Linked DNA regions of Homo sapiens: region 2 is linked to region 1. The links come from fine-mapping of genetic effects on gene expression. A gene starts in region 1. The other region holds a variant in brackets. All regions are shown on one strand. Distances are from middle to middle. Region 1 holds the start of KLRF2 (killer cell lectin like receptor F2). Region 2 overlaps CLEC2A (C-type lectin domain family 2 member A).

Region 1 (15,909 bases):
GCAGGAGTTATAGTGAGATTGTGATTGTGTTAAGCAAAACGAGCCTTTAGCTATAAGATTCACATATTGAAGTATTTAAATATTCAATGGTATAATATCTAGTCACTACTTTAATATAATCTAGTTTGAGGGAGTGATGATGGTGGAGATACAGATGGAAAATATTGATTATGTATTGATAATTATTGGTGCTGTTTTAAAGGTACAAGAAGATTTATTATACAATTCTCTCTACTTTCATGTATATTTATGTAATAAAAATTTAAGTATATAATAAAAAATAAAATCCTATTGAGTAGGTGTCATTATCACCCCCAATTTACAGATGAAGAAATTGAGGTACATAGGGATTATTTAACTTTATATATTGATATAGCATATAAATATCAGAACTGAAACTCTAACTCTGTTAGCTTAGTTCTATAGCCTATGTTCTTATCCACTGCACTATACTGCCTCCACACTGTATTACCGTATTGGAGTTCTCCATAGCCACAACCAATGGCATTTACATATATGTATATATGTGTGTATATATGTATATATATACATATATATACACACACACACACATATATATACACATATAGAGAGAGATTTAAGGTATTGTCTCATATAATTGTGGGGGCAGGCAAGTCCAAAACGCACAGAATAGGCCAACAGGATGAAAACCCAGGAAAAATTAATATTATATCTTCAGTCTGAAGGAAGTCTGGAGGTCAAAATTCCTCTTCCTTTGGGGACCTCAGCAGTTTTTCTAAGACTTTCAATTGATTGGATAAGATCCACCCACTTTATGGAGGATAATCCATTTCACTCAAAATCTACAAATGCAAAATCCAATTTCATCTAAAAAATATCTTCCCAGTGACATCTAGACTGGTATTTGACAAACTGCCTAGGTATGGTGGCCTAGCCAAGTTGACACAGAAAATTAATCATCACAGTTTGTTTAATCTACATGAAATATTCTGTGACACAGTTATTATTATAATATCCTCATTTGAAAGTTTAAAAAACTATGTTTAATTTGCCTAAATTCATGTGAACAGTTGGCTGAAATCTCTTGATTCAAACATAGGTCTATCTCAAGCCCACACTCTTCGCACTACAGCCTGCAGCCATTACATGTCACACCTATCAGTGGATGCTCGATAAATATTTGGCAAGTTAGGTATGGCAGGAAATCCACTATCATCCTGTTGTTGACTCACTAAAACCCTATTTTTTTTCCTCCTAGAAATCACCACAATTGTCCTGCCTTTCAACCATTTGATACACAGCAATGGCACTGAGGAAGAGGATGTCCTTTTCAGCCCCATACCTTTCTCCACCAGTGCTGTTGGCTTACTGTGTAACATGGGTGAACGCCAGGAAGAGGGAAGCCAAAACTAAATTTACCCCTAAGAGTAGCACATAACAAACAAAAAGAGTATTACCTGATAGACTGCTGACGTTTACATTCTGGGAGAAATCCATTTTTTTATCTGTACTCAGTGCAAAGAAAAGATATGAGAAACATTTAAAAATCAATAGCAATCTAGGTACATGAGAATAAAGTACCAGCAGAAAATGAAGGCATACTAATAAAAATTGTGAGTTTCTCTTCTCCTATGCATCCACTCCTCTTCTTCCCCAGATTTAACTACGTTTCGCCATATCTGTTTTTACTCCTTTAAGTGCAAATCACAATTCTATTTTTTAATTTTTATTATTTTTATTTTTTTTTTGAGACAGAGTCTCACTCTGTTGCCCAGGCTGCAGTGCAGTGGCGCAATCTCGGCTCACTGCAAGCTCCGACTCCCAGGTTCTCGCCATTCTCCTACCTCAGCCTCCCGAGCATATGGGACTACAGGCGCGCACCACCATGCCCAGCTAATTTTTTGTATTTTTAGTAGAGATGGGGTTTCATGATATTAGCCAGGATGGTCTCGATCTCCTGACCTCGTGATCCGCCCGCCTCGGCTTCCGAAAGTGCTGAGATTACAGGTGTGAGCCACCATGCCCGGCCTGCAATTCTAAATATTATGTGAGATCTTAGACTTCATGTATGATGTTACATTTTTGTATATTATTTTTTTCACTGGACTTTTTAATTGACATTCTGTTTTCTTTTTTTTTTTCATTTTTATTACTATTCTTAACTTTTTTTTTTTTTTTTTTTTGACACAGGGTCTGGCTTTGTCACCTAAGCTGAAGTGCAGTGGGCCATCATGGCTCACTGCAACATCTGGCTCCTGAGCTCAAGCCATCCTCTTGCCTCAGCTTCCCAAGTAGTTGGGAGTACAGGCGCACACTTCCACACCCAGCTAATTTTTGTGTATTTTTTTATTAGGGACGGGGTTTCACCATGTTGCCCAAACTGGTCTGGAACTCCTGGGCTCAAGCGCTCCACCTGCCTTGGCCTCCCAAAGTGCTGGGATTACAGGCATGAGCTCCAACGCCTAGTCTTGATCTTATTTTCCCTTGTTGCAGACCAAAAAAAAAAAAAAAAACTCTTTTGACCATATCATCAAGTTCCTTCAGCTTCCTAGTTGCATTATTTATAGTTTGTTTTCATATAGACAGAATTAATTGCTAGCTAGGAAAACAGAACAGTTGTTAATTTGAAAAGTCTTTTAATTATATTCTTGGGCTAGCTTCATTCTATCCAAAGTTAGCCACCCACCTCCCACATTCTTTTTTGCTGTTGTTATTCCAAAACAATGAATGGAAAAAATATTTACTTGATTACTCTTGTTTCAAATCTAAGTTAAAATCAAGATTGCTCATAACTTTGAAGGCATTGCTCCAGTAGAATCTTTTTAGGTGCGTTTAAAAATCTGATGCTAATTTGCTTTGGGGGAAAACTAATTATTTATGTAAACCCTTTAGGATTATATTTTTACTCATGGTGTTCTGAAATTATCTATCTATCTATCTATCTTTATCTATCTAATCTATCATCTCTTTCTATGTATTATCTGTTTTTGTATTCTGTTCCGAACTTAGTGGGTTCTTGTAAGCTGAAAACTCATGTTTTTTGGTTTTGCTTTTACTCTTGAGAAATGGTTTATATTACTTTTTTCATTATTTTATATCTACTTTTTTTCACCTATTTTCTTCTTCTGGAAGCTTGTTAAAAGAGCTATTGACCTTTCTGGATAAATAGGCATTTTTTGATTTTCCATCTCAGATATCCTCTTATATTTATTTATGTTTTTTTTCTGACATTTTGCTCTGTGCTCCGGGATATTTGGTTAGCTACCATGACTTTTCAGAAGAAATGGCACAAGAAATAGCCAAGCTATGTAGTAGACCTACACACTACTCCCCTCTCTCACTCCAAAACCAAAACAAGTGGGTATACACCTTATTGCACCGACCACCAGTCCATAAATCAGGAGCTCTACCTGGCTCTATCTATATATCTCACTGTTTTAGAGAGTTCTTCTCTCTTTTTTTTTTTTTTTTTTTGCATGATATAGGGGCAAAATCCACTGTGTAAATAGACCGACAGATTGACAAGACACCAATCAAAAAGAGCATGGCTTAGAAAGTCTTTCACTTAATTAGTTTGCTTCATATTTTTGGCTTTCAAAAGTTATTTTTAAATTTAATTGGTAATAAGCATTGTATGTATTAAAGAATTACCTTGTTTTAGACCTCCATTTACCCTCTGACTCTCCTCTCTGAAATGGAGCCCTGCCTTAGCTTAACCATGATGAACAGCTTTCATCTACACTGCAGCTGTCTTTTATGCTTTATTTGAACTAAGGTTCTCCCCATTGATTTATCCAATAGCATTATGCTATCCACTTTTCATTTTCTTTAAAATTTTCTCCCCTTTCCATTCTATGTGCTTTGATTAATTTACTCTATTTTGTTATCTTTTCTTCTTCTATGGATAGATTATTGGGAGAGAGGAGATATAAATATTTATGGTCAATACTCCATTTTGACTGGAAGCCATGAAGAATATTTTAAACTGGTCAAAACCCAAGGACAAATTTTATAGAAACACACATATTGTAATTGTTACTAATTTATTAGAATAAAAAATATGGCTAGAAAAAAATATTTTTACTACTAGTAATTCATCAACATGTCAAATTTCATTGATTTCTTCTCAATAGCGTTTTTCTTTAAAAGAATAATTATTGCATTATTTATGTCATTTTACCATTTATATTTTATTTGAAGAGAAAACTGATTTACAAGAGAGCAGAGTGGCCTGTAAAGGTCATACTCAGTGTCTAACAAGAAATTATCTCCTGAATTTTAGGAACATTTTTAAAGCCATAGTAATTACTACAGTGGATTCAACTTCTTAGAATTACTGGTTAACAGAAAGCAATACCTACTTAGATAGATTCATAACGACTAAAAATAGTCGTTTAACATTGAATGTTAAATAAGTGGACATTTTCAGGTAATTAGTAATTGATTTCAATGTTGCATTGAACAATTTTGAGGTATATGATTGATATTTAGAGAAAAAATACATTAAGTAGGATATATCTTTGGTCTGAGAAAAGTCTGATATTTTCCCTTGTTGTATTGGGAAAAACACAAAATTGCCCAATTGCCCAATACAAATATGGATCCTTTATTAAGAAGTAAAGGATCTTCTACGCTACAGAAGTTGCTTTAGGACTCACCTATTTTTAGAAATCTCATCTCAAAAGCCCCCAAAATCTATTTCCTGTCATGTTATATGTAAAACACTACTCATTTGAGCTCACAGCCTTAAAAGCAAGACAGAAAAATCAAAGATAATGAATTTCTTTGGTTGTTCAAATAGAATAGCTACAGTATACACATATAAGTACCACTTCAGGAAGAAAAAAGTCTGGAAGTCTACCTAAAATGGTTTTCAGATGGGTCTTAATATATATATATATATACTTAAATAATGATCTCACAAAGTGATACCAATGAGCACATACTCTTTTAGTAAAGATACATTACTTTTTTAATTATAAGATAATAAAGTCAACCTCTATTGGGGGTTCTTTATAAGAAAAGATGCAGAATAAATACCAAGCTTGCATTTGAGCATTTAATTTTTTAAATTTAATATAATTTTATAATATGACATATGCCAGTTTTGGACTACAGTGTAGAGTTTATCTTGGCATTAAGAGGAATGAAGGATCAACATTTATCTTCTGAAAATGTTCAAATAAATAAAAATTTACTACTCACGCCAGAACTTCAGGTCAATCCCTGTCATAATGAATATAAGGATCACAATGCATCCAAATATGAGCAGAAGACAATAATATTGTGGATATAGGGAGAAATCTGAAATGTTGAATTTTAGAATTCTTGTGATTATTCACTTTATAAATATTTTTCTGTTTCATTTTTATTACAGAGACAACTCATGTTCATTTTAGATATGTCATTAGAATTTATGATTAAATGAAAATCTAAAAATAAAAAGTCTAGAATCCCAAACCAAGGAGATACTACTATTATTAAACGTTTTGGATTGTACTGACATAGACTTGTTAATTATTTGGTGGTGTTTTTGAGGACCTAAAAATGATGTCTTAAATTCCATATAAATTATACATACAAATACATATTATATATGATATAAATATTTGTTATAACATATTATATAAAATATAAATATATACAATGTAAACATATATATTATTCTATACATGTAAATTATATAGAAAGAATAATATATAAAATGTATATATCTATGTCAGGCACAATTACGTGTGTTATTCAATTTAGTGACTCACTGCTAAGAAATAAAAGAGGGAAAGAAATATTTATTAAAATTCTATTATATACCAGTCACTGTACTGGAAATATCCACATTTTATTTCACCTTACACCTGTAATATATTATATTTTTCTGGGTTTGACTCTTTAGACAGGAGTCAGTTTCAGCTTAGGTAGTATTAGATCTCCAATTAATGATGCTTATATGACATCTATGCTATAGTATTTCATCGCATTAGAGTTGGCAAGAATAGCTTCCTTATAAAGGAATAAACAAGTAATCTCTAGAGAGGTTAAACAGGGGCATGTATAATAATCCTCTTTCAATTTTATCTACTTTTTTCCACATATTAGCACTTTTGAATAAATTGGATGTATACACTTTTTTCACAAAACTATGACAGGTTCCTTTTATATGCAGACATCATATAATTAATATCTCAATCTACAATCATTTTAGTCAGTTTGCCAGGCTAGTGGCCAAAGAGAAAGCAAAGTAATTTGAGATACTCTGATAATTATTCCCTATTTTTTATTCTTTTATCTATAAACAAACATTTAATTTCATCACCTTGGTTGTACATTTCACAAATAATTTGTCTTCTAAGTCATAATAAAAGTGCTGTTTCTCAAATCTAATTTCTGTGTGGATGCTTTACTTCAATAGGTTTTATGGATTTACTGCATTTGATTAGATCTATAGTATATACTTAGAGAATTTACTGTATGTAGTGTACCTTTTGAAATTTGCTACTCAATTGTCTGTATTACTAAGTCCAAAATAATTTTCTTTCTTTTTCTTCCCTGTAGATATTTCTGCTGTTCAAGCAAATATGGAAAGACTTCTACTTAATTGAAAATCGTCAAAATACATTTCTGCAATTTTATGAGAAAATATCAATCAAGGGTATATGGATCTGTAGTTAACAAGTGCTCTTTCCATACATGCCAGGGAGGGAGACTTTAAACTTCTTGCCAAATAAGATTTATAAAAAACTGAACAATAGACCAAAAATTAATATTTTCATGTAAGCCATGATTTACATACTATATCAAGCCAGGTGAACAGAGAGCTGAGTACATGAAGTGCAGTATGCTGGCCTATCCTAGCACTGCTTGGCTAGATGCCATTGGCTTACACAGGGCTATATGAAGAAATTGTCTTACAAAATCTGCTGGTGCTACTATTGCAAGAACACTAATTGTATTATTTTATGTGCTTCATGAGAACTCAGGAAAATATTTTTTCTGATTTAGGATCAAGATTAATTATATCAATCTTAAGGAATAGGTGTAACTTTATCTTATACACAATGTGAACTGAACAACTGGTAAGAATTCCCTTAGGTCAGTAATAACAAGGAAGCTTGGAAGCAAATGTATAGCAAGCACAAACATGCCTACAGTAATTTTTCTGGCCCAATTTATTTTCCCAGCCCTATCCTTCCTTCATTCATAATTTAAATGGATATTATCTTATATTTTATGTATCAATACTCAGATTTTAAGTCTCTGTACACATTTGTATATTAAAAAGTAGTTTATAGATTAAAAAATAGTAAATTTAGTTTAACATCCACATAAAAGCATCATCAGGTAGATTTTTCTTATTATATATCAAAGTATTGAGATTTAAGAAGGCTAAAAGCTTCTGCCCAGAGCCATACATTTAGTCTGTGGGCTTTAGGGTCTGAATAATTTTTTTTGTTTTTTTATATATGGAGTCTTGCTCTGTCACTCAGGCTGGAGTGCAGTGGCATGATCTCAGCTGACTGCAACCTCCGTCTCCCGGGTTCAAGCGATTCTCCTGCCTCAGCCTCCCAAGTAGTTGGGATTACAGGCACACGCCACCATACCCAGCTAATTTTTTTTGTATTTTTAGTAGAGACGGGGTTTCACCATGTTGGCCAGGCTGGTCTCGAATTCCTGACCTCAGGTGACCCGCCCACCTCTGCATCCCAAAGTGCTGGGATTACAGGCATGAGCCACCGTGCCTGGTCTGCCTCAGTCAATTTAACACCAATGGTACTAGTTTTTGCTGCATGGAAGTAAGTTACTATTGAAAAAGTAAACATTTGTTTCATGATATTGAAACACAAAAAAGATCTGAGTCTTCAGATAATAACAAAAGTGTCATTTTGTGGGGGCAGGGGGTGCAGGGGAAGTTTGCATTTGCTAGATATAAAATGAGATTGTACACGAGAATGTTCAATACATATGGCAGAACTGCCACTGCGACTGGTAATTCTGAATTTCTGGCCTATGTCATCTTAACTTAGGTCTTGGCTATTTCAACAAGATTGTTTTCAAAATTCCTGAAAAAGCAAACAAAGCCAACCACAGAGCAGCCCTAAGGAGCAAAGATTAATGTTTTTTTGTTTTTTTTTCTCTCTTCTCGCATTCCCAGTAGATTGTTCTACCAATCCTATAGGGCTTTTACGAAGATTAAAAATATTATATATGTATAAGCATAAATATATATATAAGCATATATATACGCTTTAAGTTTATATAAACTTTAAGTTTTGTAGGAGGAAGTTTCTGTAAAAACACAATTTTTCAGCCTTTTCTTCGAAAGTGATGTTCTTATGCTACAACACACAGGATTACACATCGTCATATTCGCATTTCTCTTACCTCATGGCTCTGAAAATGCAGACTTTTTATTGTTGATGCTTTCATGAATCTAAATAATCTAACAGACAATTTATGACCATTTTTATATTCCTTATTATGATCAATGTTAAGATGTTAAAAATATTCTAAGATAATTCTCTTCCTAGAAGAATAATGAAATTTTAAATGCGGTGATGGGGAGCAGTATTCCTACCTTTAGATTTCTGCTTCGATTTACAACGATTCTTGAAACTCAGCGTCATATACCCATCTTCATTCTCCATCTCTTCAAATGTCTAATGTCTTATTATCCAGAAAATAGTACAAAGAAAATGGAAACTAATCTCAACCTTGGATATGTCTCTTTGGCACAAGGTACTAAAAGAAAACTAAAAGGAAGGCCAAAAATAGTCAAAATTTACTCAGACACAGATGTCTAAAACCACACAGGATGTGTTGGTAAATGAAAATGGATATAAGCTTGTTAATATCTGGCTACAATTCTGTGAATTTCAAGGTAAAGGTAGCTAGTGTGTTCCACTGTTTTCAACAAATGGACTTGTGTGTTCCTGCCACTTGTGTGCGGTGTATTAGAAACATAATTCCTTCCTTCATGTCTTTTATAATAAAGTAAGAGAAAAAATAAAATAAAACAAATAATCTCTAAACAAACAGAACAAATGTCTAGGTAAATAAAAATTCAAATTAAAAAAGTTAAAATAGCAATTTTGTTATTTGGGACATATTTGACTAGTAGAGTCCAAATAACGATGGTTAGATGGGACAAAAATAGGAAAATAAAAGATCAGCAAGTCTCAAGTTAGTGAAAATCGGAATCACTTGCAAAGAATTTAACTTTTTAAACTTTTTTGTTTGTTTGTTTGTTTTTCAGAAAACGCCAGGCAGATTTTCCTTCAGTAGGTGTGGCAGTTTATTTTGTGTCAACTTGGCTGAGTCACAGAGAGTCCAGATAGTTGATCAGACATCATTCTGCTTATTTCTGTGAGGGTGTTTTTGGATGGGATTCATATTTAAATAGGTGACCTTTGAGTAAGGCAGATTTGCCTCCTCTGTAATGTGACTGGGCCTTATTGAGTCAGTTGGAGCCTTGAATAGAACAAAAAGACTTGTCTTCCCTGAGTGAGAGAGAATTCTCCAGCAATGGCCTTCAGACTATCTGCAGCATTAGCTCCTCCTGATTCTACAGACGGTGGACTTTGCATTTGAATTGAGCCTTCCTAGGTACCCAGTCTGTCCATGCTCATTTGCAGAATTTTGACTTACCAGCCTCCATAATCACATTCCTTATTTTATATATATTTCACTTAACACGCACACACACACACACACACACACACATGCTAATGGTTCTGTTTCTGCTACGTGGCCACTCAATATCAATCCATTGATTTAACACCGAGTGTCTGGGGAAGGTGGCTGACTGTTTCCCACAGCACATGTTGTGTTCACCTGATTATTGAGTCTCCTCCTCAACACTGGATGTCACTTGTGAGTATTTACATGGGAATGAATATTTACACACGCCGCGTCCATTCTGCATGATCTCTATATGTACCTCTTAGCTTCTCATTCATTTTTCTATTTTGTTCTTTTTGAGTTTCCGACAAGTCATCTCACCTATTAGTTTCTGATAAGATGATTTAGATGTATTTCTCTGAGTGCTTATCCTTCCTGTTAGGTTCACAACCAGACATATTGTCCAAACTTCTGTTCAGTGGGAAGACTTACCTTCACTTCTGTCTTTCACAGTCTTCTCCTGAATGGGACTGTAGTGTGGCATCTATTCCAGCTGCCGTATTTTACATAACCACTGATAAACTTATTTTTTTCAACTACTTCAGTGTAAGATCGTACAGAACCCTCTTTTCCATCCCCAACCCGGGTCATAGGTATGGTTGAGGTGGAGATAGCAAAGGAATGCGAACATGTGCCATCGGAGTCTGAGCCATCTGCTCATGCAGTTTACTGTGCTTCTTTGGAACTGTTCAGGCCTTGCCTCCAAAATGGCACAATTATGTTTGTGATAAAATGCTTCTGTGCACTTCTAAACATAGGGTTCATTGGGTCAAAGTGGTCAAGTTGGATCAAGTTAATGGTGGTGAACATATGTCTTATAAAAATATGTAGTAGGTTTACTGCCTACTTTTCACCAGGAACAGTTGGCATGATAGCATCAATGTAATGAATCTATTGTGTGCAACCAGTTCTGAGGTATAACATATTGGGAGCTATATCAAGATGATTTAGTTCCCTCTGGGCCATCTTATAACAGAGATCAGGAGAGCTGACATACACCTGGGCAAGGCAGCAAAGAAATACTTGTTATTTCTGTTTGTAAATACAAGCCGGAAACCATCACAGGTTCTCAGCTTTTTCCCAGTGTATAGTCATTCAAGAAAATGACTGAAGTTTCCTCCGGTTTAGGTGTTGGGGAATAAATATCATAATTACACCTGTGGCCATGTTACAATGTCCTTCACCAAGAGACCAAACCTACCTCCTCCCCAGTTGAGTGGTTCCTGGTCTGCGAAGAGCTTTGCCTACTAACTATATGGAAGTCTGGGGATTGGGTAAGACACAATGAATCTCCTCTCTGAAAATACGGGCTAAGTTTCTGGGCAACATACATGTAATTTTCCTTAGCATATCAAGCAGCTCCTTAGTGAAATATCCTTTTTTGTTTGTTTTTCTTTTCTTTTCTTTTTTTTTCATTTCCCAAAACTTAAAATCAGCTAATCATTGTCACAGATTTCTGTGGATGAAAACTCTGATTACTAATCATTCCCTCTGGCTTATTGTGGCAACTGCAACCCCTTGACCTCTAGAATCAAATTATTGCCGTTGATATCAGAAAGCCTGATTCCGCTGTAGCATCTCCCAATACATCTATAGTCAACAGTGAACAGTTGCCACAGCAGGTCGTCACCAGGTTCCCTCACAAAAGCATTCTCCATCCCCCCATCCTCCTAAAAAATCGGTTCACAAAACTGACCTTGAAGAGAGGAAATCAAAGCCTGGAGGAGGCTGTAGAAAGGAGAGAGAAGGTGGTCAATGACTGCCTAGCCTCCTCACTGTATAAAAGGTAGCAACTTTAAAACTGTTCCCCCACCCTCCATCCTGGGCGCCAGACCCCTCAGTTCTACCCAAGGGCCATCAAGTACCTTCAGAAACTTCTCTTCCCTTTACCTTCTATGCCTGGGCCAATTCTCTCAGTATGGGTCTAACAGATTTGGTGGGATTGAATGCTGAAATATTTTAGAGTATCAAAACTTGAAGATGTCTAAAATTTGTATCTTAATGTTTTTCCCAAACTATAGATTTATTCAGTGTTCTCTATATAGTTAGTAATTAAGTTCTGTCAGTTTAACCCCCTGCGTATTTCCCTAGTAAATTCATTACTTCCCATTTTAAAAGCCATCATCTTGGCTCAAACTCCGTGTGGGCTGACATTATTCCTTCATGGCATTTAGTCTCCTTTTGCCCTCTCCCCTTGGCCCATATAAAACAAAAGAGTATCTTTAAGGGTTGAGATACTCAATAAATCTGATGCCCCACAAATCCAAAATAGACATAGAAAATGTGCATCTTTTACAAAATTCATATCCTCATGTATGAATTAGTTAATAAAAGGAAGTCTCCATTCTCTCCAGAAACGTTACAACTTCTACGCTTCTGAAATTTAGAATTTCCCACACCCATACCAGATTATCATTTTAATCTTAAATGGGCATTTTTTTTTTCAGACAGGGTCTTGTTCTGTTACCCAGGCTGGATGTAGAGGTGTCATCATAACTCACTGTACCCTCAAACTCCTGAGCTCAAGTGATTATAGACACATTTTTAATCTGATAGGCTGCTGCATTGTTTCACTTTAGATTTCTTGGATTTTCATTGTGTTTAGACAACTTTGGATACACTGACTGTATATGCATTGTTATGGGTTAACTATTTGTGCCTTGTTCATTTTCTGTTACTAATGTATTTATGACTATTCCTCTGTATATATTCATTCGTATATTGATTCATTCAATAAGACTTTTTGAATATATGTTATGCTACAGCCACAGTTCTAACCACTGAGAATACATCAACAAGTAAAACAGATAAACCCCTCTGATTTCATGACTTCGTGGAGCTTTCACTCCAGTGGCAGAGACAGAGACACATGTTACCCATTGCCCAGGAGTTCATATATGTTTTAAATGTGAGTTATTTTTATTGTCTTATGAAGCTCAGTTAGTGGTGCTGTCGTGTAACCATCGTCCAATTAGAGCTTTCATCTACATCCAAAACAGACCTTTCTGAGAACCAACTAAACTTTATTCCTTGTTTATCAGCAGGTAATAGGAAATATCTTAAACAGCCATAGACATGAGCCGAGGGAGAGGTGCCAGTGAAACAGTTGGATAGTATCATTAGTATCATTTCTGAAGCTTGCCTGTGCTCTCTGGTTGGCATAGGGGTCTTCAGCTTGCCTTTTCACTGAGAATCTGCCTGTGCTGATTCTGGATATACCAATCTCATCATATAATGAATTGCTGCTGGGAGTGCCTGAACTTATATTTGGTGAGTCTTACAGGTTTCTCTTTCCTTTTTTTCTTGAGAGGGAGTCTCGCTCTGTCACCCAGGCTGGAGTGCCATGGTGGAATCCTGGCTCACTCAACCTCTGCCTCCCAGGTTCAAGTGATTCTCCTGCCTTAGCTTCCTGAGTAGCTGGGATTACATGCACCCACTACCACGCCAGGCTATTTTTTGTATTTTTAGTAGAGACGGGGTTTCACCATGTTGGCCAGGCTGGCCTTGAACTCCTGACCTCAAGTGATCCACGCGCCTTGGCCTCCCAAAGTGCTGGAATTACAGGCATGAGCCACTGCGCCTGGGTGGGTTTCATTTTATTAATGGCAGTTCAGAACATACGGATGCCTGCTGACTCACATCCAAGTAATCTATTTCTGCAAGGTCCAGTAGCATGCCAGGAGCTATTTCACAAAAGCTCTATAAATGCTTAGCTATAATTGACCTGGTATTGCTCTAGGACTCAAAGGATCAGTAGAAATTATGTTTCACCCGTTAGGACTTGGCCATAAATTCCACAAAATTTTTTCTCACCGTTGATACCTCTGGTATTACACAGTGCGGTAAGTTACATGGCTCCAGTGGTAGAGATGCTTCTGCTGCAGCCAGATTTGCGGAGGAGTCCATGTTTACTCTCTGGGCCACGATGGGAGCCTTGCAGCCTTTTGTGTCCCCTAATGAGAGGTGACAGCGTGCTGGCAGTCCTCACAGCCCTCGTTCGCTCTGGGCACCTCCTCTGCCTGGGCTCCCACTTTGGCGGCACTTGAGGAGCCCTTCAGCCCACCACTGCACTGTGAGAGCCCCTTTCTGGGCTGGCCAAGGCCGGAGCCGGCTCCCTCAGCTTGCGGGGAGGTGTGGAGGGAGCGGCGCGGGTGGGAACCGGGGCTGCGCGCAGTGCTTGCGGGCCAGCGCGAGTTCCCTGTGGGTGTGGGCTTGGCAGGCCCCGCACTCGGAGCAGCCGGCCGGCCCTGCCGGCCCCTGGCAATGAGGGGCTTAGCACCCGGGCTAGCGGCTGCAGAGGGTGTGCTGGGTCCCTGGGTCCCCCAGCAGTGCCGGCCCACCCCCTGCTCCACGGCACCCAGTCCCATCGACCACCCAAGGGCTGAGGAGTGCAGGCGCAGGGCGCGGGACTGGCAGGCAGCTCCACCTGCAGCCCAGGTGCGGGATCCACTGGGTGAAGCCAGCTGGGCTCCTGAGTCTGGTGGGGACAAGGAGAACCTTTATGTCTAGCTTAGGGATTGTAAATACACCAATCGGCACTCTGTATCTAGCTCAAGGTTTGTGAACACACCAATCAGCACCCTGTGTCTAGCTCAGGGTTTGTGAATGCACCAATCGACACTCTGTATCTGGCTACTCTGGTGGGGCCTTGGAGAACCTTTGTGTGGACACTGTGTATCTAGCTAATCTGGTGGGGATGTGGAGAACCTTTGTGTCTAGCTCAGGGATTGTAAACGCACCAATCAGCGCCCTGTCAAAACAGACCACTGGGCTCTACCAATCAGCAGGATGTGGGTGGGGCCAGATAGAGAATAAAAGCAGGCTGCCCTGGCCGGGAGTGGCAACTGGCTGGGGTCCCCTTCCACACTGTGGAAGCTTTGTTCTTTGCTCTTTGCAGTAAATCTTGCTACTGCTCACTCTTTGGGTCCACACTGCCTTTATGAGCTGTAACACTCACAGCGAAGATCTGTAGCTTCACTCCTGAAGCCAGCGAGACCAGGAGCCCACCGAGAGGAAGGAACAACTCCAGACGCGCAGCCTTAAGAGCTGTAACACTCACCGCGAAGGTCTGCAGCTTCACTCCTGAGCCAGCGAGACCACGAACCCACCAGAAAGAAGAAATTCTGAACACATCCGAACATCGGAAGGAACAAACTCCGGACACGCCGCCTTTAAGAACTGTTAACACTCACCACGAGGGTCCGCCGCTTCATTCTTGAAGTCAGTGAGACCAAGAACCCACCAATTCCAGACACACCAATATGTATGTTAGAACTCTATTTCCAAGTACGAACAATGGCCCTTCAGTATCCAATGAAGACTACCAGACATTGTGTCCTCTATTTTTTTAAAGAGATGCCCTGGCGTGCACCAAACCCATGTAAACATAAAAATTTCACTGATGCACTTTGGGAGGCCGAGGCGGGTGGATCACGAGGTCAGGAGATTGAGACCATCCTGGCTAACATGGCGAAACCCCGTCTCTACTAAAAATATAAAAAAATTGGCGGGTGCCTGTAGTCCCAGTTACTCTGGAGGCTGAGGCAGGAGAATGGCATGAACCCGAGAGGCGGAGTTTGCAGTGAGCCGAGACTGCGCCATTGCACTCCAGCCTGGGCGACAGAATGAGACTCTGTCCAAAAAAAAAAAATTCACTGATGTGATGCAGTGGCCATTCAATCTTTGCTGTATTCACAACTCACTGAAGTGTATGCATCTTACCAATGTCTCCAATGTACTTGCTCCTTCTTTCTCATCTAGTTCAATTTGTATACTGTCATTAGCACAGTGAACAAGAGTTAAATTTTGTAGGCTGTCCAAGCAGTCCAGGTCTCTTCACTATATTATGATAGACAGTGGGACAGTTAACAGACCTGGGGCAAGAATGTAAGTGTCTACTCATGTCAGCCCTAAATAACTACCAAATATTTTTGGTACTCATTTGTTAAAAGAGATAAAAAAATAATTCTTTTGCCAAATTAATGGCCATATTTTCTGTACCTGAGCATAGGGTAATTTGCTTTAACAAGTATTCTGTATTTAAATCAGCAGCTACACTTGGAATTATTGTTTGATTGAGCTTGCAATAATCAATTGTCATCATCCAGAATCCATATAGTTTTGTCAGAGCTGCACTGGTGAATAAAATAGAGGTAAATGGATACCAGCATCCTTGTGTCTTTGAGGTATTTATGGGTGGCAATAACCTTTGTCATTCGCTCTATAATGCAGAATTATTTTGGGTTGACTATC
Region 2 (15,909 bases), 40 kb before region 1:
CATCTTCAAGCCAAGGAGAATGGCCTGGAACAGATTCTTTCCTTACAGGCCTCACAAGGAACCCATCCGACCAACATCTTAATTTCAGACTTCTTGTCTCCAGAACTGTACGACAATACATTCCTGTTAATTTTAGCCGCCCAGTTTGTGACAACTTGTTACGGCAGGCCTAGCAAACTAAAACACTAATGCGCTTATAAATATTAAAAAAAGAAGGTAGAGGTCTAAAAAATATAAAATGCCAAAATGTAATGAGAAGAAATAAATAATTATAGAATTATAGAAATTAAAAATAAATACATTGAAAAGGCAACTAAAATAGAGTAATCTACTGATCTTTCAAGAAATAGCTAATTTTTGTATTGGACATCTTGCTTCAAAAAACAGCAAAATGAGAAATTTACCCCGATTTAATAGACTTTTTGATTTCCAAACAAAGTCAGAACAAGACAAAAAGAAACAGACTCATCTTCTTATGAAATTAGAAGTAGAAATTCCAAGAAAATATTTATTTACTATATACAACAAAGCAGTTAAAAATTCATATACAAGTGGATTTATGTTAGGAATGCTTAGATATCAGAATATCAGTGCAAAAAATATTAAAATTTTTTGAAAGAAAGTCCACACAATTATTCAGTAAGTGCATTTGATAACAACAAGGAAACATGATAACATTCAATGTCTATCTGAGATAAGTCCCTGTTAAGAAACTAGGAATAGAAAAATTCTTTTTTAAATTGCTAATGTTGTATGTTAAATTTATACAGCATTTTTACAGTGCTTAATAATGAAAATTTAAACATTCCATTTAAGATTAAAAACAAGAAAAAAATGTTCACTGTAACTACTACTGTTTAGCAATAGTGTAGTACAATGCTAAAGGTAACCAGTGATATAAGAAAACAAAAGGAATTATAAAGGACAAGGATTGCAATGGAAGAGTTGTATCTGCAATATTTTCAGATAATTTGATTATATAAAAATAAATACCAATAGAATCAACTAGAAAACTATTAAAAATAATACCAGAGTTCAAGAGGGTTACTTAAAAGAGCACATTTAACAAATCAATACTATTTCTGTATACTAGAAGTGTTGTTTTTATTTAGTTTTCTCAGCTTTTTTTTTGTTGTCACTGTGAGAACAGTAGGGATGACTTCCAATCTATTGCAAATATCACATGCCAGAACAGGAATGAAGGACATATATTTTAATTAAAAATAAAAACTGCTAAAGAATTTTCCAAAACACTTATACATTTTTGTACTTCAACCAGTTGTGTATGTGTTTCGGTTCCCCTATATCCTGCTAACACTTGGTGCTGTCAGTCTTTTTCATTTTAACAGTGCAAGTGGCATGTAGTCATATTCCATTGTGGTTTTATTCTGCATTTTGCTTGTGACTAATAATATGGAACATCTTTTATGTGCTTATTGCTCACTTGCGTGTATTCTTCTGTAAGTATTTGTTCAAGACTTTGGTTCTTTTTTTTATCAAGTTGTTTGTACTATATCTCTAAACTACAGACCTTTTAGTATTTTCGATACCAGTCTTTTTTGCATACACATATTGTGACTATTTTCTCCCAGTCTGTAACTTGCATATTTATATTCACAACAGTGTCTTGTATCTTGAAATGGGCAGAGGTTTCTTTCTTTCTTTCTTTCCTTCTTCTTTCTTTCTTTCTTTTTCTTTTTTAAGACAGAGCCTCACTCTGTCACCCAGGCTGGAGTGCAGTGGCATAATTCTGATCACTGCAGCCTCCGCCTCCTGGGTTCAAGTATTCTCCTGCCTCAACCTCCCGAGTAGCTGGGATTACAGGTGCCTGCCATCATGCACAGCTAATTTTTTGTGTTTTTAGTAGAGAAGGGGTCTCACCATGTTGGCCAGGCTGGTCTCAAATTCCTGACCTCAGGTGATCCACCCTCCTTGGCCTCCCAAAGTGCTGGGATTACAGGCATGAGCCACTGTGCCCAGCCCTTAAATTTCAATTAAATTCAATTTATCATTTTCTTTTAATTTTACACTGTACTTTCTCTTCTTTCTCTAAGACAGCTTTACTAATTCTCATGGTCACAAACTATTTTATGTTTTCTAGAAATTGTATGGTTTCAGGTTTTATGTTCAGGTCAATAATACGTCTTAAATAAATTTTGTAAGCTGATGTTGTCGTATGGTAAAGCCTTTTTTTCTCAATTGTTTCAATACCTTTTGTGTAAGACATGGCTTTGCCCACAAATTACTATTTTGGGTGTCTGAAATTTGTGCAGTGGTTTTTATCTTTTCTTCTTCCTTGTTCTTCATTTCTCCCTAATCTTGAAAAAAAAAACACATTTTATGTTTTCTATCTTTAGCTATTGTTTCTCTAGATGTAAGATAAATTACCAAACTCTTCTTCCTATCAAACATTCTCTTTGTAAACATCTCAGAATCTGGCTTCTCTCAATCCAGTCTTGAAATTACTTTATTGCACATTATCTGTAGTCTGGTGATCATGAAAACTAGTAACTTTTTCAAGTTTTCATTCACTAAGGCTGCTTTAAGTTCTGAAGAAAGAGAGAAAACATGACTTCTTTTTAAATTTTTCTTTCTTCAAGTCCTCTTTTCTGATATTTAAATATATGTATGTATATGTACATGTATATATACATACATATAAAGCATATATATGCATATAGGCATGCATACATATATATAATCTGTGTTTATGCATATATGCACGATATACACATATAGTCATGCACCATAGAACAATGTTTTGGTCAATGACAGATTGCATAACAACAATGGTCCCATAAGATTACAATGAAGCTGCCTTGTAAAGGTGTACCATTTTTGATCTTTTATATGGTATTTTCACTGTACCTTTTCTATGTTTAGACGCAAGCATTTAGCATTGTGTTATAATTGCCTGCAGTAATTAGTACGATAACATGCTATCCAGTTTTGTAGTCTAGGAGCAACAGTCTGTAATATATAGCCTAGGTGTTAGTAGGCTATACTGTCTAAGTTTGTGTAAGTACATTCTATGATGTTCCAACAATGACACAATCACCTAAAGGCACATTTCTCAAAATATCTCCCCATTGCTAAGCTATGCATGACTGTACACACACACACACAGACACACACATACACGCACATTCTTCCTAGATTGTTTCTACATCTACTAATGATATATCAGCTACAATTACTTTATCATTAATAGAATTATTATTTGTTCTTAACCTCATAGCATTTCCACGAGTGTCAAATCCTGAGTTTTCTCTAATTTTGTTTGCTTACCACAAATAAATAAATTACTGCTTTTATCTTGAATATTCTCTGGCTGAAACACATTGTTTATTTCCTCCATGGCTTAAAGAATAAAGAAAAATATATCTCTCATTTAAGGTCTTCTGTCATGACCTTATGACTCCTTTCTTTCCTGTCTTTAATCCTATTGCCTTATATATCTGTTATAAACATTTGCTCTAATCGTGGACCTTTTGATGATCTTTATGCCTTTTTGCTTAAAATCCCCCATTCAAACTATTTCTACCTTTTAAGTAAACTTTCCTTTCCTTTCCTTCCTCATTCCCCCAAAACTCAGTGATTTCTCCACTCACCACTCTCTCGAGCCGAACAGCTATAGCAATCATTTTTTGGTACTTATCTTCCTTGCACTTTTTGATGGTTTGCTATCCTTTGTTATTTTGAGATGTATGTACTTGATTGAGGGTTTCCTGATTAACAATTATAGGAGAGGAATACACCAGTAATAATATCGAGTCAGTGTTTATTCAGAAATTGTAAAATATGTGTTGATTTAATTTGCAGTTCCCAAGTTGATACAAAACTGGAAGATTGGCCTTATGTGCTTCCTGAGTATTATTATTACTACAGTTTGCATTATTATGATAGGTGAGTGGTTTAATTCATACACTTTCTATGGTTCTTCACTCCTGAAGGGTCCATGTATATCTCAAGTTTAACTCCAAATCTCCCACATCTAGAGTGATTAAAGGGTTTTATAGACACTTGTCCTCAAATTTTTACCAGTTCAACAGTTTTTACCATAATCCTTGCCTCTCCCCCAAACACTCTCAGTTTTACAATAGAATTATGTTCTTGACTTTATAGTCCTTGATGCTTAAGAAAAATAATCTTAAATTCTTAGATGACCACCAGATGGCAACAGCAATAGCGATGTTACTGAAATGCCAGGGGTTCAGTCTAGGTCCCATTGCTCAGGGCACAGAAAGCCAATCCCGGAGACAATGACTATTCCCGAATTAGGGAGGGGTAGGGAAGAAGAGTTGGTCAACAGGGAGCAGGTGGTCGGTTAGACAATCATGGCAGTGAGGAGTCCCTTGTCTGGAAGTGGTGATCTGGTGACTTTCGGTTTCCTGTTACTATCTGAGAGGACTAAAGGTCAGATTCCTAAAGAATGAACTCAAATAAGACAAATGTAAGTTTCAAGTTTTAAAACTAGGAGGATCAATTTCTATATTTATAAAAAAAAATCCCACATAAACATCAGTTCTATGGGCTTGTTACAGATAATTTTCTTTTTTAGAGTTTGTGAATTAGTGAGCTAATGTTAAATACACTATGCTCTGCTATTTGTATTTAATCCTCATTAGACTAGGATACAGGTATAAGAAAATCCATTTACAGATAAAAAATATACAGGACAGAATGAGTAAGTTGCCTCTCACAAATAATACATTCCAGACCTAGGATCAAACACCTTGGCTGTATAACTCTAATGCTTGATAAATTTTAAAAACCATGCAGCTTGACCTTCATAATTGTAGCATTCCTTTAATTTCTTTTTAATCAAGAGTAAGTTATGTCACTAATAGTTTGTTCTATAAAACTTTATTTATTTCTATTAGTTGGAATGCAAAATCTTACCTCTACCCGCTCAGGGTTTTTCTGCGGGCCTGAGAATGAAATTGACACAAGACACATCAACTTGAGCAAAGCACATGCGTTTAGTTAATATAAGTTTGACGTGACATGCACGTCTTCCTTATGAAAGCCTAAAGATGCAGGTAGAGTTGAACACTTATATATTGAATTCAACAAAGGGTAATAAATTATGAAAATGTGGCAAGGCAAAGAGGTTTGATCTAGGGTAATTAATTGGGTAGAAAAGTGACCGGAAAGATAAATGTTAAATTAACAAATGTTGTTTGCACACATTTCCTTTGGCCTCAACTACCTATCCTTGACTATAAGAATGTTGCTTTCCTTCTGGTATAGAGAAGATATCTTTCACAAAGGTATTTTATCTCCTGCTTATAAGAAAAATAAGGAAGCTCAGAGTGTTTTCTCTTGCATCTGCTGTTTTAAAAGTGCGTTTAACTCAAAAGAGTCTATATGCCTGAGTGACATATTTCGGGGCATCATGTTCTGAACTCCTTCACTATCATATTAAGTTAAATGAAAAAAAACAAAGAAATAACGGCATATGTGACCTTTTGCAAGACTGTCTCATTGGAATTGCAATATTTGTAAAAATGAAGTTGTTAAATTTCCTCTGGGTTCTATGGGTTTATTTTGTGAAAAAGATCCAAAGGTAGAATTTAATTCCTGAGCCATGGCCAAATAGTCCCCAGCACTTGATTTTCCATATGCATGGTTTGCTTAATTTAGCACTTATATTTGGCTAAGTAGCACTGCTCTTTGTTTTGTTTTGGTTTGATTGGGTTGGGTTGGGTTGGGTTGGGTTGGGTTTCGGTCATTCTCAAGAATACTGATAGTCTTCTTGTTTATAGTCTCTACTGTCAGTGTAGTCTTAGAGCTTAATGTTATTGCTGTCTAAACATCTGGAAGTTAAATATAGACAAGAGTTTCTACAGTAAGTTTTTATGTTCATTTATTCATTGATTAAAAAGAGCAGAAAGACAAAAGAAGACATTTATGTGGCCAGTAAACATATAAAGAAAAGCTCATCATCACTGGTCAGTAGAGAAATGCAAATCAAAACCACATGAGATACCATCTCA[G/C]GCCAGTCAGTATGGCGATTATTATTTTTTCTTTTTTTCTTTTTTTTATTATTATACTTTAAGTTCTAGGGTACATGTGCACAATGTGCAGGTTTGTGTTACATATGTATACATGTGCCATGTTGGTGTGCTGCACCCATTAACTCGTCATTTACATTAGATATATCTCCTAATGCTATCCCTCCCCACTCTCCCAACCCCACGACAGGGGGGCTATCCCTCCCCACTCCCCCAACCCCAACATCACCCCAATGTGTGATATTCCCGTCCCTGTGTCCATGTGTTCTCATTGTTCAATTCCCACCTATGAGTGAGAACATGTGGTGTTTGGTTTTCTGTCCTTGCCATAGTTTGCTGAGAATGATGGTTTCCAGCTTCATCCATGTCCCTACAAAGGACATGAACTCATCCTTTTTTAAGGCTGCATAGTATTCCATGGTGTATATGTGCCACATTTTCTTAATCCAGTCTATCATTGATGGGCACTTGGTTTGGTTCCAAGTCTTTGCTATTGTGAATAGTGCCACAATAAACATACGTGTGTATGTGTCTTTATAGCAGCATGATTTATAATCCTTCGGGTATATACCCAGTAATGGAATGGCTGGGTCAAATGGTATTTCTAGTTCTAGATCCCTGAGGAATCGCCACACTGTCTTCCACAATGGTTGAACTAGTTTACAGTCCCACCAACAGTGTAAAAGTATTCCTATTTCTCCACATCCTCTCCAGCACCTGTTGTTTCCTGACTTTTTAATGATCACCATTCTAACTGGTGCGAGATGATATCTCATTGTGGTTTTGATTTGCATTTCTTTGATGGCCAGTGATGATGAGCGTTTTTTCCTGTGTCTGTTGGCTGCGTAAATGTCTTCTTTGAGAAGTGTCTGTTCATATCCTTCACCCACTTTTTGATGGGATTGTTTTTTTCTTGTAAATTTGTTTAAGTTCTTTGTAGATTCTGGATATTAGTCCTTTGTCAAATGGATAGATTGCAAAATACCTAATGCATGCGGGGCTTCAAACCTAGAAGATGGGTTGATAGGTGCAGCAAGCCACCATGGCACATGTATACCAACGTCACAAACCTGCACACTCTGCAGATTTATCCCAGAACTTAAAGTTTAACAAAACAAAACACAACAAAAAGAGCACAGAGACAGAGTTGAAACACATTATATCTTACACCCTGTGTAGTAGCCTGTATCCACTTCTGAGCACTACAAAATAATAATAATAATAATAAATCATGGTGGAGTAGGGGGTGCAGCCTTTGGAGTTTGCCCTACATTTGAGCATATAGTTGGCTCTTTATTACTTGCATTAATTTATTCAAACATGTGGAATGCATGGACTTGTCTTATTCTGAATACTTAGCACCTAAATAAAACCTTGAGACAGTAAATCTCCAAACAATGTGCTTTCATTATTATTCCATATTCTTCAGCACTGGATGTAAATGAAATGAAACAAAGGTTTCACTAATTCTTATGTTTCACTTATGTGTTGTCCTTTATGGCAAGTTTCACTTTCCTAGCTTGGGTGTTTTCATAGGTAAAGGAAAGCCTCCATTTCTTACCCTAACCTCGAAACCTAAATTACATGCAGATCTCCAGCACTCTACCTTGATTGCAGAATTTATAGCTACATTTTATGCATTGTTTTTGGCAGGATATTAATATAGATTATGAGAAGCTAGTGGTTCCATTTCTCAAAATAGAAGCCAGGGAAATAGAAAAAAGTATGCACTGCTTGATCACTAAATGATCTTCCTTACAGACAGGGGAAGTTAATTCATCCTCATTCTGGGGAGGGGGGAAGCTAACTTACGGGCCTCAAACTGTGGAAGCAAAAAGTAAAATTAATACACCTGAATGAGTAGAAACACTTTTTAACATATGCTTTATCTGATCATTTCTTTCTTTTTTTTTCAGCCACATGGTCCAAGCATGCTAAACCTGTGGCATGTTCAGGGGACTGGCTTGGAGTGAGAGATAAGTGTTTCTATTTTTCTGATGATACCAGAAATTGGACAGCCAGTAAAATATTTTGTAGTTTGCAGAAAGCAGAACTTGCTCAGATTGATACACAAGAAGACATGGTAAGAAAACAGAAAAGTCTTCAGTAATTTCAGAGATTGTTTGTATAAAAACATAATAAAACAATAATAGCTAATACTATAATACAATTGATCCTTGAACAACATGGGTTTGAACTGTGTGGGTTCACTTATACCTGGATTATTTTTCCTCTGCCACCCTTGAGACAGCAAGAGCAAACCCTCCTCTTCTTCCCCCTCCTCAGCCTACTCAATATGAAAACAACGAGGATGAAGACTTTTACGATGTCTTCACTTCCACTTAATGAATAGTAAATAGATTTTCTCTTTCTTGTGATTTTCTTAATAACATCTTCTTTTCTCTAGCTTCCTTTATGGTAATAATACAGCATATAATTCAAATAACATGAAAATATATGTTAATTTACTTTTATGTTACCAGTAAGACTTCCAGTCAACAGCAGGCTACTAGTGGCTAAGTTTTCTGTTTTTGTTTTTTGTTTGTTTGTTTGTTTGTTTTTAAGACAGAGTCTCACTCTGGCACCTAGGCTGGAGTGCAGTGGTGCAATCTCAGCTCACTGTAGCCTTGAATTCCTGGGATCAAGCAATCCTCCCACCTTAGCCTCCTGAGTAGCTGGGACTACAGGTGCAGACCACCACTCCTGGCTAATTTTGTTTATTTTTTGTAGAGATGAGGTCTCACTATGTTGTCCAGGCTGGTCTCAAACTGAGATCAAGCAATTCTACTGCCTCAGCCTCCCAAAGTGCTAGAATTAGCATGAGATACCATAAACAGCATGGTTAACTTTTTGAGGAGTCAAAAGTTATATACAGACTTTTGACTGCACAGGCGGTCAGTGCCCCTAACTGCCACATTGTTTGAGTCAACTGTGTATGACAATGTGTGCTCAACAGTGTTCTAAGCACTGAAACTATATAATCTCATGTAATCTTCTACTAACACCCATGAAGGAGTTATATAACTCTCCCTACTTTAAAGATGAGGAAAGTCAGTCACAGAAATGTTATGTAACCCAGCCAATGACACAGCCATAAGTTGTTGGGCTGGGATTTGAACCCAGGCAAGATGACTAGTGATGCCATGTCCTTTACCACAATGCATACTGTTTATGTATCTAAATGTCTTCGTTAAATGTTCTTAGATTATTAAGTAGATTTTTTAAACCCTTTTCAATTTGCATTCTACCAAGCATAGACAGAAAAAATTTTTAAAAATACAGCTCTTAGAATTTAGAGACAAGGAAATGAAGGAAATATGTGCACTTCGAAGACGCGAGTGAATTAATGGAAGTAAAGAGGGCAAAGAAGGAGACACGTGGACTCTAGGGACACAGAGTAAGAAAATAGATTAGTTTTTAAAGAAAAGCTGGGGGTTGGAGAGTGGCCAAGATGGCCGACTAGAAGTAGCTGGAGTGCGCAGCTCTCAAAGAGAGGAACTGAAGGGGTGAGTAAATACAGCACTTTGAACTGAAACATCCAGGGTACACGCAATGGAACTAATCAAGGAAACAACTCAACCCATAGACAATGAAGAAAAGCAAGGCAGGTCGATGGCCAACCTGGGAACGACATGGAGCCAGGGGAACTCCCCTCGCCCAGGGAAGTGGTGAGTGAATGTGCAACCCCTGGAACCCATGCTGCTCCCATGGATCTTTGCAACCCTCGGGTCAGGAGATCCCCTTGTAAACCAACTCCACCGGGGCCTTCAGTCTGACACACAGAGCTAAGTGGAGCTTCAAAAGAGCAGCCTCTCAGGCATGTGCAGTGACCCGGGAGCCTCAGATAGCCAGGAGTTCCAGGCTTCCCAGCAAAAGTAGTTGAAACTCCAGCGAAGAGGGAGGTTAGACCCCCTTACACATCCCTAGTAAAGGGGCTGAATCCAGGAGGCTGAGCAGCGACATTCTGCAGGACCCACTTCCATGGCATCTCACAGGATAGGACCCACTGGCTTGGAGTTCTAGCCAGCCATCAATAACAGCATTGCACCTCCCTGAAACAGCTCCCAGAGGGAGATGTGGGCAGCCATCTTTGCTGTTTGGGTGACTTAGCCATCCAGCCTTCAGGCTTTGGAGAGTCCAAGTTGACCAGGGGTGGAAGTGGTCCCCCAGCACGGCACAGCTGCTCTACAAAAAAGTGGCCAGACTGCCCTTGTAAGTGGGTACCCAATCCCATTCCTCCTCACTGGGCAGGATCTCTAACCAGGGTCTTTAGCTGCCTCCTACAGGTGTTCTTGGGCCGGTAATAGCTATGTACCTCCCTGGCACAGAGCTCACAGAGGGAGGGGCAGGCCACCTTCTTTGCTGTTTTGTAGGCTTCACTGTTGGTACCTACAGGTATCAGAAAATCCGAGGTAAATAGGGACTGGAGATGGCCACCAGCATACCACAGCAGCCCTATGATAAAGTGGCCAGACTGTTACATGAGTGCCCATCTCCTTGTCTCCTCACCAGGAGGGTCCTCCAGGCCTGGGCCTCCAGCCCCCCTCGCAAGCGCTATTGAGCCAGTAGCAGCTCTGGAATGTCTTAGAGAGAGCCTCCAGGGGCAACAGGAAACCTCTCTGCCACTGCCTCTGCACTGGAACTGCCCTTGCTGCCCTCAGACTAATGAAGGAGCAAAGACCCTAAGTCTCTCATCCACACCTCCAACAAGTTGCAGGAGAGGAGGCCAGTCCATCTCCACAGGCTCTGCTCACCCACCTTGCTCATCACCAGACATGGAACCTCCAGCTTGGGCCCACAGCAGAGACCCTCCATCCTGGGCTGATTGCACTGAATGATTGCTTACTTGCATCTCTCTGGAGTGAAGCTCCCAGGAGAAAAGCAAAAGACCATTGGCTTTAACCACTACTAAGGTCTCTTCCATTGCTGCCTCCAAGTTGGGGAAGAAACATAAACACTGAGATCACCCAAGAGCTGCAGTGGGCAGCCTAGAATTGCCAAGTCACAATCTATAGCCAGCACTCAAGTGGGAGAGAAACCCACATTTTCAGAACATTGAGAGAGAACATGGCTGCAACTGTGAGGAAAAGTAAGGGAGTCACACAATGGATCAAGAGTCTCCCAACTGACAAATACGTCCAAGCGCAACCTACTGGATCACACCTCAAATCTTCAACACCAAAAATATCTCACTAACATAACCCCCTCTAAAATTAAAGAAGTCACCTTCAAATAAAGACCCTGCACAAAGCTTCAGCCCTATGAAAACAAACAGAAAAGAGATCTATCGACTGTACTAAATATACACTGCAGTTAAATTGACACCCACTGCAGAGATGAGACAGAATTAATGCAAGAACTCCAGTAACTCAAATAGTCAGAGTGTCATATGTTTTCCAAACAACTGCACCAGTTCTCCAACAAGAGTTCTTAACGAGGCTGAACTGGCTGGAATGGCATTGAACTGACAGAAATTCAATGCTATTCCTGTCAAACTACCAATGATATTCTTCATGAAATTAGAAAGAAAAAACTATTTTAAAATTCATATGGAATCATAAAAGAGCCCAAATTGCCAAGGCAATCCTAAGCAAAAAGAATAAAGCTAGGAGCATCATGTTACCTGACTGCAAACTATACTACAGGGCTACAGTAACCAAAACAGCATGGTACTGGTACAAAAACAGGCACATAGACCAGTGGAACAGAATAGAGAGCCCAGAAATAAGGACACACACCTACGACCATCTGATCTTTGACAAAGCTGACAAAAACAAGCAATAGGAAAAGAACTCCATATTTAATCAATTGTGCTGGAATAACTGGCTAGCCATATGCAAAGGATTGAAGCAAGACTCCTTCCTTATACCATATACAAAAATCAACTCAGGATGGATTAAAGACCTAAATGTAAAACCCCAAACTATAAAAAGACTGGAAGAAAACCTAGGCAATACCATCCTGGACATTGAAACAGGCAAATTTCATGACAAAGACAACAAAAGCAATAGTAAAAAAAAATGCAAAAATTGACAAATATTATCTAATTAAACTTAAGAGTTTCTGCACAGCAAAAGAAACTATTAACACAGTAAACAGACAAACTACAGAATGGGAGAAAACTTTTGCAAGCTATGCATCTGTCAAAGTCTAACATCAGCATCTCTAAGGAACTTAAAACAAATTTACAAGAGAAAAACAACCCTATTAAAATTGGGCAAAGGGCATAAAGAGACCCTTTTTAAAAGAAGACATACATTTCACCAACAAACATGAAAAAAAGCTCAACATCACTGATCATTAGAGAAGTGCACATTAAAACCACAACGAGATATCATCTCACACCAGTCAGAATGGATATTATTAAAAAGTCAAAAAACCACAAATGCTAGCAAGGTTGTAGAGAAAAGAACACTTATACACTATTGGTTGGAGTGAAAATAGTTCCACCATTGTGGAAAGCAGTGTGGCAATTCCTCAAAGAGCTAAAACCAGAACAACAATGGTTGCGGTGGTGTTTACGTGATTGACTTATGATTCTTTTGTTATGGATGAGTTAATTTTTAAATGACTTTTGTGAACTAATGAGTCTGTCTACTTTTATCTTTGATCTAGTACTGACATGTATATTTGGATTGGGTAAGACTCACTTTTAATTAGTTAATTGTTCTGTTTAACACAGAAGTTTGTTCAGTGCCTATGTAAATGATGTACATAAAACACTTTCCAGTCCTCTCCTATTGATCTCAATTAGCATATTGCCATAATTAACCCAGAACTATGTGATGGCAGATATGACAGATATAACTATTGGTTAGTGGGCTTAATACTTGGGTGATGAAATAATCTGTAAAACAAACCTTCATGACACAAGTCTACCTCTGTAACAAACCTTCACATATATCACAGAACCTAAAATAAAAGTTAAAAGAACAAAAAGCTAATGAAAGGTTTGTGGCTTAATAGCAAAAAGCCAATAGAGCAGTGACTAAAGCCATCACATAATAGATTTCATTGCAGTAAATTATATTTATATAGAAGTTAGTTTTATCTCTGATTATATGAAAAAACATACAATATCAGTGACATTCATACTAAAGGGTATCAATGACTTGGTTGTAGCCCAATTATCTGGAGATACTTAAGATGCAAAAAAGCAAAATGAAAATCTTTCTGATAAAACTAACCCAAACATCAACATCTGTGCTGTTTGTTGTTATAGAAGCATCAGGGAAGACAAATTAGAATGTGAATCCTAAAAGATAGAATAATTGGGGTGGGAAGCATGTTCAGCAATGTGCTGTAACATATTAAGTAATCGCTGATTCCCTTTGTTTTGTGAAAGGAATTTTTGAAGAGGTACGCAGGAACTGATATGCACTGGATTGGACTAAGCAGGAAACAAGGAGATTCTTGGAAATGGACAAATGGCACCACATTCAATGGTTGGTGAGTTTCCAATGTATTAGCAATGTTCTTATTCTGGTGTGTCATATGAAAAATTTTAAATCATTTTGAGTTGTATTATTATAAACAAATCTTTCTGTTTTCCATGTGGAATTAACTTTTCAGTCTCCAATCGATGACATATGCCCTTTCACATTGAAGCATATCCTAGAGCAACCCATTTTCTTCTCACCTTGTTAAATGACACATGGTGAAATCTTCCATTTTTATTTTTATTTGTTATTTTATCTTTATTATCAAGCTCTTGCTTGACAATTAGTTCTCTTTTGCTAATTCAAATTTAATCATTCTGCAAATTTTAAGCCAAAACTCACGTATTACTTGTACTTCTTTCCAAGTAAAGTGTATATAAGATTTCTTTGTCTTTAAAGGGTTAAAGACTTTATAGTTGTCTTTAACATTCCAAATGCCCACCACAATGAATACTACTTGTTTTTATTTATTTGTTGCTTATTTTATTTATTTTTATTTCTGTAAGCATTTCCTGGGTGGGTTAAAATTGTTAAAAGTGTTTCTTGGGTTAAAATGGTTGAGGATTGTATAGTTGTCTTTAGCTTTCCAAATGTTCATCATAAGCAATATTATATTTATTTTTTTAATTTTTGTTTATTTTTTATTTAGCTTACTTTTTTATTTATATAATTGTTTCTTGGATACATATGTATCTCTGCCTTATTATTTTAGTAACGTGCTAGATTAAAAAAAGCAACCAATAAAACAAATATTGAAATATGCAAGACAGGACAAATTATACTTATAAATAAGGAAAGATTTGTTTATCAACAAAGAAAATTAATTAAAAAATATATTTTTATTTTACTGTAAGTTCTGGGATACAAATGCAAAATGTGTAGGTTTGTTACATAGGTATGTGTGTGCCATGGTGGATTGTTGCACCTACCAATCCATCATCTAGGTTTGAAGCTCCACATGCATTAGCTGTTTGTCCTAATGCTCTTCCTCCCCTTTCTCCCACCCCCTACTGCCCCCAGTGTGTGTTGTTGCCCTTTCTGTGTCCATGTGTTCTCACTGTTCAACTCTCACTTATGAGTGAGAACATGCAGTGTTTGGTTTTCTGTTCCTGTGTTAGTTTGCTGAGGATGACAGTTTCCAGATTCATCCATGTCCCTGCAAAGAACATGGACTCATTCTTTTTTATGGTTGAACAGTATTCCATGGTGTATATGTACCACATTTTTTTTTAACCAGTCTATCTTTGATAGCCCTTTGGGTTGATTCCATGTTTTTGCTATTGTAAATAGTTCTGCAATAAACATATGTGTGCATATGTCTTTATAATAGAATTACTTATATTCCTTTGGGTATATATCCAGTAATGGGATTGCTGGGTTAAATGGTATTTCTGGTTCTAGATCCTTGAGGAATCACCACACTGTCTTCTACGATGGTTGAACTAATTTACACTCCCACCAGCAGTGTATAAGCATTCCTATCTCGCCACAGCCTCACCAGCATCTTTAGTTTTTTGACTTTTTAATAATTGCCATTCTGATTGGCATGAGATGGTATCTCATTATTGTTTTGATTTGCATTTCTCTAAAGATCAGTGACGTTGAGCTTTTTTTTTCAAATGTTTGTTGGCTGCATAAATGTCTTCTTTTGAGAGTTGTCTGTTCATATCCTTTGCCTACTTTTTGATGTTTTTTTTCTTATAAATTTATTTAAGTTCCTTGTAGATCCTGGATATTAGACCTTTGACAGATGGGTAGATTGCAAAAATTTTATCCCATTCTGTTAGTTGCTTGTTTACTCTGATGATAGTTTCTTTTGCTGTGCAGAAGCTCTTTAGTTTAATTAGATCCCATATGTCAGTTTTGGCTTTTGTTGCTTTTGACGTTTTCATCATGAAGTCTTTGCCCATGCCTATGTCCTGAATGATATTGCCTAGATTTTTTTCTAGGGGTTTTATGGTTTGGGGTTTTACATTTAAGTCTTTAATCCATCTTGAGTTAATTTTTGTATAAGGTGTAAGGAAGGGGTCCAGTTTCAGTTTTCTGTGTATGGATAGCCAGTTTTCCCAGCGCCATTTATTAAATAGAGAATCCTTCCCCCATTGCTTGTTTTTGTCAGGTTTGTCAAAGTTCAGATGGTTGTAGATGTGTGGCATTATTTCTGAGGTCTCTATTCTGTTCCATTGGTCTGTATGTCTGTTTTGGTACCAGTACCATGCTGTTTTGGTTACTGTAGCCTTGTAGCATGGTTTGAAGTCAGGTAGCATGATGCCTCCAGCTTTGCTCTTTTTGTTTAGGATTGTCTTGGCTATATGGGCTCTTTTTTGGTTTCATATGAAATTTAAAGTAGTTTTCTTCTAATTCTGTGGAGAATGTCAAAGGTAGTTTGATGGGTATTGCATTGGATCTTTAAATTACTTTGGGCAATATGGCCATTTTCACAATATTGATTC

What was found.
Region 2: its variant is fine-mapped to the expression of KLRF2 in sun-exposed skin (GTEx, PIP 0.97).

What each region holds. Positions count from the first base shown.
Region 1 is chr12:9,874,311-9,890,219 of GRCh38, reverse strand. It overlaps KLRF2 (killer cell lectin like receptor F2), which reads right to left and starts at 8,731. Exons shown (of 6, transcript NM_001190765.1): 1 at 8,555-8,731; 2 at 5,188-5,286; 3 at 1,440-1,487. The coding sequence starts at 8,624. It also overlaps a transcript of CLEC2A not described here.
Region 2 is chr12:9,914,257-9,930,165 of GRCh38, reverse strand. CLEC2A (C-type lectin domain family 2 member A) reads left to right here. Exons shown (of 5, transcript NM_001130711.2): 2 at 3,823-3,906; 3 at 7,934-8,100; 4 at 13,363-13,466. Among named protein-coding and RNA genes, the nearest start is that of CLEC2A, 10 kb to the left of the region's middle. The variant G/C (reference allele first, on the strand shown) is at 6,000.